2 linked regions of the Homo sapiens genome follow. The protein of the gene in region 1 interacts with the protein of each later gene in a pairwise test. Each region holds a gene or a part of one and is shown in the gene's direction. Other genes may lie near its edges.

What was found.
Region 2: the proteins of CYB561A3 (region 1) and GPR37L1 interact in binary tests that used the Homo sapiens proteins (3 or more experiments, as listed by UniProt).

Annotation. Positions count from the first base shown.
Region 1 is NC_000011.10:61,355,383-61,358,882, reverse strand, and holds part of CYB561A3 (lysosomal membrane ascorbate-dependent ferrireductase CYB561A3), read left to right. Parts: intron 1-1,054; 5' UTR 1,055-1,150; intron 1,151-1,511; exon of another isoform or gene 1,512-1,644; coding exon of another isoform or gene 1,645-1,680; exon of another isoform or gene 1,681-2,154; coding exon of another isoform or gene 2,155-2,169; coding exon 2,170-2,353; intron 2,354-3,500. UniProt on the Homo sapiens protein: Transmembrane reductase that uses ascorbate as an electron donor in the cytoplasm and transfers electrons across membranes to reduce iron cations Fe(3+) into Fe(2+) in the lumen of the late endosome and lysosome.
Region 2 is NC_000001.11:202,121,508-202,125,716, forward strand, and holds the start of GPR37L1 (G-protein coupled receptor 37-like 1 precursor), read left to right. Parts: upstream 1-1,409; 5' UTR 1,410-1,456; coding exon 1,457-2,086; exon of another isoform or gene 2,087-2,226; intron 2,227-2,443; exon of another isoform or gene 2,444-2,551; intron 2,552-4,034; exon of another isoform or gene 4,035-4,209. UniProt on the Homo sapiens protein: G-protein coupled receptor. Has been shown to bind the neuroprotective and glioprotective factor prosaposin (PSAP), leading to endocytosis followed by an ERK phosphorylation cascade. However, other studies have shown that prosaposin does not increase activity.

The DNA of each region.
Region 1 (3,500 bases):
GTAGGTGGACCCCTAGCATGGGGAGAGCTGGCATGGCATGGCTGAGGGCCACTGAGAGGCCTGGGCAGGCACAAGGAACATGAGCTGCATGTTAGTAGTTAGGATGAAGTGCATGACAGCAATGACTAAGAATTCTATGTATATATATATATTTTTAGATGGAGTCTCGCTCAGTCGCCAGGCTGGAGTGCAGTGGCGTGATCGCAGCTCACTGCAACCTCCACCTCCCGGGTTCAAGCGATTTTCCTGCCTCAGCCTACCGAGTAGCTAGCTGGGACTAAAGGCGCGCGCCACCATGCCCAGCTAATTTTTTATTTTTAGTAGAGATGGGGGCGGGGGTTCACCATATTGGCCAGGATGGTCTCGATCTCTTGACCTTATGATCTGCCCGCCTCGGCCTCCCAAAGTGCTAGGATTACAGGTGTGAGCCACCTCACCCAGCCTTTTTTTTTTTTTTTTTTTGAGATGAAGTTTCGCTCTCATTGCTCAGGGTGGAGTGCAATGGCACAATCTTGGCTCATTGCAACCTCTGCCTCCCTGGTTCAAGCAATTCTCCTGCCTCAGCCTCCTGAGTAGCTGGGATTGATTACAGGCGCCCACCACCACTCCTGGCTAATTTTGTATTTTTAGTAGAGACCGGGGTTTCACCATGTTGATCAGTCTGGTCTCGAACTCCTGACCTCAGGTGATCCACCTGCCTCAGCCTCCCAAAGTGCAGGATTACAGGCATAAGCCATCGCGCCCAGCGAAGAATTCTAATACTTGACTTCTACAGTGTGCTACATTCATTTTCTCACTTGATCTGACAACCTGTGGTCAAGGAAGCAGCGTGGGCCTTGAAGCTAAACACACAGGATTTGGAACTCCCCACCCACTCTCACTGGGTCCTCATGCTAATTACTTATCTCTCTCAGCCTTAGTTTCCTCACGGAATAATATGCCTCCCAGGGTTAAGAGGAGTAAATGGGATCTTGTGTGTAAGGCTCTGGTGCTCGTAGCTGGTGTTCGTTATTCTTACTGTTCAAGTATTCTTACTGCCACGCCTTTCTTGCAGGTGAGTCCTGCAAATGTTAAGTGATTTGCTCAAGGTGCCCATTTCGCAGGAATTGGAGCCCAGGCCAGTTCTCTGAGCCTATCATTAGGGCTAAAGGTGAGCAGTCAAATGTTTTACCTCCGTGGGGGCTATTGGCTATTAGCTGCTTCCGAGTGAGGGACCTCAATGCAGGAAGCCACACTGTTGCCTTCTTGGTGTGAGTCCGTGGGACAGGGTGACTGCCTTGATGCCTGGGCCCGTGCTGCCTACATATTAGCTGAAAGCAGGGCCAGTCCTGTGGCTTTGCCCACTCACCTAGCGTTTAAGAGCAACTGCTCAGGGCTTTAAGCATTTGCCATGCCTGAAACCAGAGTTGGTTTCTGGGTTTATCAAGGACTTGTGGAAATCTCAAAATAAATCTCTTGCTTTCTGGACCATGAGTTGTTGCTTCCTCTTTTTTTCTCTGGACTTTCCCCAGAGGAAGAGAAAGCAGAAGTCTCAGGGCTGGAGACAGCTGAGGGGCATCAGCTGGTTCAAGGTGTGGAGTGTGGGCAGTGGAGTGAAGGCCTGGTTACCTCTCCAGTGAAGATTAGCCCCATAGAGCTTACTCTATGGGGAAGAACTTTTCTGACTCCTTCCTGTCTAGGGTAATAGTGGGGTGTTTGCTCTTTTCAGACTGTAATTTTTGCCTTCTTATCTTAGAACCCAAGGCCTGGGTGTTTGCGTAATTTAGCCTGGATTTTGATTCCTGTCCCTTTTTTCCTGGGGGGTATGGGGTGGTAATTCTTTACCTTCTGGTCCTGTGAGGGGAGAGGAATCCCAGGACTCTGGGTCTTGGGCCTTGGCATCTGGCCTTCGCCAGGGCCAGCCATAGCCTTGAGTTTGCTGCTCTGTCTGGGCACTGCCAGGTGCTGGGGTGGGGCCTCAGTCATTGTGACTGAAGATCAGGCCCACCCAGGCATTGAGGCCTCGGGCGGGGGGTGGTGCCCAGGCTGATGCAGGGGAACTGAAGCAAAAAGATTCCATCCCACAGGCCAAGAGCTAAATCAGTGTTACCTCCTTTAGCCAGAGAACTGGGTGCATCTGAGCCAGTGGAGATTTGTGACTTCTCCTTCTTCTAGGAGTGCGTGATCAGAATGGTGTCTGGACGGTTCTACTTGTCCTGCCTGCTGCTGGGGTCCCTGGGCTCTATGTGCATCCTCTTCACTATCTACTGGATGCAGTACTGGCGTGGTGGCTTTGCCTGGAATGGCAGCATCTACATGTTCAACTGGCACCCAGTGCTTATGGTTGCTGGCATGGTGGTATTCTATGGAGGTGGTGAGTAAGAGGTCAGGAAGGGAGGCGGGATAGGGCTCAGGCTGGACAAAGCTGCACTTTCCCTCTCCAAGGCTGGCCTTTGTAAATGTTGGGCTTGGGGCTATGGGGGTAGGGTGGGTTGGGCTGTCTCTGGGCCTAGCTGTCATTTGGGGGAGGAAGGGGTTAAGATGGGGGGCATCTCAGAAGGGTGGCTTCACAAATACTCTAGGGCAGGAGTTGGCAAACTTTCTATAGAGGGTCAGATAAATATTTCAGTTTTGCAAGACAGAATCTGTGTTGCAGTTACTCAGCTCTGCCACTGTATTGTGAGAGCAGCCATAGACAACACATACACACAAGTGTGGATCACGTGTTCCAATAAAGCTTTATTTGCAAACATAGGTAGCGAGCTGGATTTGGCCTTTGAGCTGTAGTGTTTTTTTTTTTTTTTTTTTTCTCTAGACGGAGTCTTGCTGTGTCGCCCAGGCTGGAGTGCAGTGGCGTGATATCGGCTCACTGCAAGCTCCACCTCCCAGGTTTGCGCCATTCTCCTGCCTCAGCCTCCCGAGTAGCTGGGACTACAGGCGCCTGCCACCGTGACCGGCTAATTTTTTTTTGTATTTTTAGTAGAGACAGCGTTTCACCGTGTTAGCCAGGATGGTCTTGATCTCCTGACCTTGTGATCTGCCCACCTCAGCCTCCTGAAGTGCTGGGATTACAGGCTTGAGCCATCATGCCCGACCTGAGCTGTAGTTTTTAACCAGCTCTAGAGAACAGGAGATTGAAGCCTCTCATGGTTTAGTCAGGCCACCGAATGAGGGACTTGCTTGCTCTTCCGGGATCCATCTTTTTTTTTTTTTTCTTTTTTTGAGATGGAGTTTTGCTCTTGTTGCCCAGGCTGGAGTGCAATGGCGTGATCTTGGCTCACTGCAACCTCCGCCTCCTGGGTTCAGGCCATTCTCCTGCCTCAGCCTCCCAAGTACCTGAGATTATAGGTGCCCGCCATCATGCCCAGCTAATTTTTATATTTTTTAGTAGAGATGGGGTTTCACCATGTTGGTCAGGCTGGCCTCGAACTCCTGACCTCAGGTGATCCACCCGCCTCTGCCTCCCAAAGTGCTGGGATTACAGGTGTGAGCCACTGCGCCCAACCTGGGATCCATCTTTG
Region 2 (4,209 bases), on another chromosome or scaffold:
AATAACTTAGTTGAGTCATTGTTTGCCTACTTAACAACCTGTGATATTCTCCATTGCTTATGGGATAAAATCTAAACTCCTTGGCTTGGCATACAAAGTCCTTTACAGTCCAGTTCCTCCTCTGCTGATATTTCCAAGCTCTTTGTCCCAAGTGCCCATGCTCTCTCCCCACCTCCCTTGCACTCTAGTCCCCTCGACAGACTTGCTCTCTTGCGGGAACATCACCCACTTCCACATCACCCAGCCTTTGTGTGTGCTGTGTCTTCTGCCTAGAGCACCCTCCCTTCCCGTAGTCTGTCAGGCAAGCTCACAGCCATTTCTCGGGATCCATTCAAATGTCACCTCGCTTGGGAGGCCTTCCAGATCCCCCCCAGATTTTCTTGGGTTCCCTCAGCATCATGACCTTTGCCTTTCATAGCATCTATCATGCTGAACTTACACATTTACTTCCTTCTCTGGACTGAAAGCTCATTGGTGGCAGAGATCCTTTACATTTTTGTATTCTGAGTGTCTGGAACACAACACGTAGTCAGTAAAGACGTGTTATTGCAAATGTCCACACATCTTGTGTCTGGCTCAGAATATGGTGTTTTAGGCCGGGTGCGGTGGCTCCCAGCACTTTGGGAGGCTGAGGCAGGCGGATCACCTGAGGTTAGGAGTTTGAGACCAGCCTGGTCAACACGGTGAAACCCTGTCTCTACTAAAAATACAAAAATTAGCCGGGTATGGTGGCGGGCACTACAGTAACTGTAATCCCAGTTACTCAGGGGGCTGAGGCAGGAGAATCACTTGAACCCAGGAGGCGGAGGCTGCAGTGAGCCAAGACCGCGCCATTGCACTCCAGCCTGGGCAACCGAAAAAAAAAAAAAAATTAGAAATCTCTGGAGTCAGATCTGGGTTGTGGGCCTTGCTCTGCCTTGTATCAACTATGTGGCAAGTGACTGACCTCTACAAACCTCAGATTTGTGATCTGAGATTAATCAAGGGTTAATTGAGAAACCAGCTGAGTGCTAGCACCTAGTAAGTGTTCAGTAAGTGACAGTGATGGTTATTGCTGAGTTTTGAATGGAGGAGCTGCCTTAGAATCAGGAGACCTGCGCCCCAGTTCCCATTCTGCCCCACCTCCCTGTGTCACCCTAGGCAGGCCACATTTCCTCCCTAGTTTCAGGGGCCTGAAGCAGATGCCCTCTTAGGGCCCCACAGCCTGACATGCTGTAGGGCCTGAGAAGCGGCGTCGTGGAGGACGAGATGTGTGAGGGCAGCAAAGAGTGCTATGTGTCCAGCAGAGGGCCCTGCCCGGCCTGTGGCCGGAGGCTGGGAGGGAGGGCAGGCGAGTGATGCCAGACGCCTGACTGGAGGCGGATCCAGCCGGCCAGCTGCCTCTCTGGAGCCCAGCTCTTGGGCCCCCTGCACTCACCTGCTCTTCCTGGGCTGGCTGTCTCCTGCTCATCCAGCCATGCGGTGGCTGTGGCCCCTGGCTGTCTCTCTTGCTGTGATTTTGGCTGTGGGGCTAAGCAGGGTCTCTGGGGGTGCCCCCCTGCACCTGGGCAGGCACAGAGCCGAGACCCAGGAGCAGCAGAGCCGATCCAAGAGGGGCACCGAGGATGAGGAGGCCAAGGGCGTGCAGCAGTATGTGCCTGAGGAGTGGGCGGAGTACCCCCGGCCCATTCACCCTGCTGGCCTGCAGCCAACCAAGCCCTTGGTGGCCACCAGCCCTAACCCCGGCAAGGATGGGGGCACCCCAGACAGTGGGCAGGAACTGAGGGGCAATCTGACAGGAGCACCAGGGCAGAGGCTACAGATCCAGAACCCCCTGTATCCGGTGACCGAGAGCTCCTACAGTGCCTATGCCATCATGCTTCTGGCGCTGGTGGTGTTTGCGGTGGGCATTGTGGGCAACCTGTCGGTCATGTGCATCGTGTGGCACAGCTACTACCTGAAGAGTGCCTGGAACTCCATCCTTGCCAGCCTGGCCCTCTGGGATTTTCTGGTCCTCTTTTTCTGCCTCCCTATTGTCATCTTCAACGAGATCACCAAGCAGAGGCTACTGGGTGACGTTTCTTGTCGTGCCGTGCCCTTCATGGAGGTGAGTGTGTGTTCTGTTTGAGCTCTGCTGGGAGGCTGCAATCCAGGGAAGGGACTCAAAGTCTCCATCAGGTCTTTGGAAATGGAATTTGTGGGTGTGCAAAACCTGAGTCTTGGAGCTCTGACTTGCTCCTCCTTTACCTTGGAGAAGGAGACAAATACGGTATTGGTTTCTGGTTGCTCTCAAGAGAAGTAGGCAGGCCAGGGGGACAGGCGGGTGTGTGGGGCCCCTGGGTTCCAGCCCCAGCCTGATCTTCTGCTTCGGGAGCAACCTCAAGGCAGGCCTTTGCCACTTTCTCCAGACCCTAAGCTGCCCTCTCCCTTCCTCAGCCCTTCTCCCCTGTCCCACCCAAGATACCTCTGTCCTTTGTTGTGACTCCTCTTCTTTCCTCTGTACCCCCTGCCGCTGCCCTGCTCCCACAGCTTCCTTCGCTGCTCCTCCGTCTCCTGCCTCCTGAAGGAGTGCCTGAAGGGAGAGCCCAATTTCCTTCACACCCCTCTGGATCAAGTCAGCATCCACTCCATGAGAATACAAGCACCAGAAGCAAAAGACCGCTCCGTTCTTCCCTCCCTGCTGGGATTCTCATTGTTATCGTTGTCATTTCCATCAGCAACTTCCTAGATCCTCTCTGAAAGGGATACCTGGTTCTGGGCACTGGAACTAATGGGGGGCTCTAGTCTTAGCTCTGCCACTGACATACTGGGCGTCACTGGGCAGGTTGCATTACCTCTCCAATTTCTTTATCTCCCAACCAGGGCGGGTAGACCAGATGGTCCTTCCAGCTGGCCTGTTTCACAGTTCTAAAGTATACCACTATGCCCTTACTTCTGGTAGCGTCTACGATAAGTCCATGGGTGTCAAAGGATATGTAGAGCATAGAGAGACAACTTAAAACACTGCAGAAACATACTGATGTGTGCATTTATGCAAGACACAGCAAGGCCACCCTCTCTCTCTCTGTAAGACAAAATAAGCAAACAGTCTTTCAAATTTTGGCTGCATGGAGTGTAATGGAGTGACTGTGGTCTCCCTGTGAAGCTGCTGTTCCTTCGTGAATGATGCTGCATGACAAGGGGGACTTGCCTGGCCGGAGAAGGGCTCAGGATCAGCATTACGGACACAGGTCCTATTCCAAGGTCTGTCCCCACCTCACCATGTAACAATGATGATGTCATAGTTGGACAGACTCCCTGTGTCTCAGCAGTGGGTACAGTCCTTTCCTGTCCTTCCCAACCCAGGGAGACTGACTAACAGTGGTACAAAGTTACTCCACCCTGAAAGAAGACCCTGTGCCAGGCACAGTGGCTCATGCCTATAATCCCAGCACTTTGGGAGGCCGAGGCAGGTGGATCACTTGAGGTCAGGAGTTCGAGACCAGCCTGGCCAACATGGTGAAGCCCCATCTCTACTAAAAATAAAAAATTAGCCGGGTGTGGTGGCACGCACCTGCAGTCCCAGGTACTCAGGAGGCTGAGGCAGGAGAATCGCTTGAACTTGGCAGGCAGAGGTTGCAGTGAGCCAAGATTGCGCAGCCTGGGTGACAGAGTGAAATTCTGTCTCAAAAAAAAAAAAAAAAAAAAAAAAGACCCTGCAACTGGAGAGAGGCTTTGCATTCTTAGTTATCATCTTGTGCTCACGACCCAGGTGAGCTGTGCATGCTTAGACACAGGACTCTGAAATTGAGCAGACTAGATTAGAAACTGGGCTTTTCCCATCACTAGCTGTGTGATTTGGTAGATTACTTTAACTACCTAAATCTCAATTTCCTCATTGGTAAATTGGGGATAATAATAATAATAGCTATCTGGGTGAATTCTTAAGGGATTAAATGGGTGATGTCTATACAGTGCTTAGAATTAAAATGGTATAGAGGAGAAGGGGAAAAGGGCAGACACATACGACCTCTTGTTTGCATGTGGCTGGTAGGTCAATGAACACCTGGCCCTACCTGACTGTGGGTCCTGACATATGTAATGTCCTCCTGGGCCAGCCCCTCCACACCTCCTGGAGGATAGAGATGATCCACAGGCTGGTAGACAGTCTTCCTTCTAGGCTGGGTGGTGGGACAGGTGGAGGGAGAAAACACTCTTTCTTTTTTTGAGACAGAGTCTCACTCTGTCACC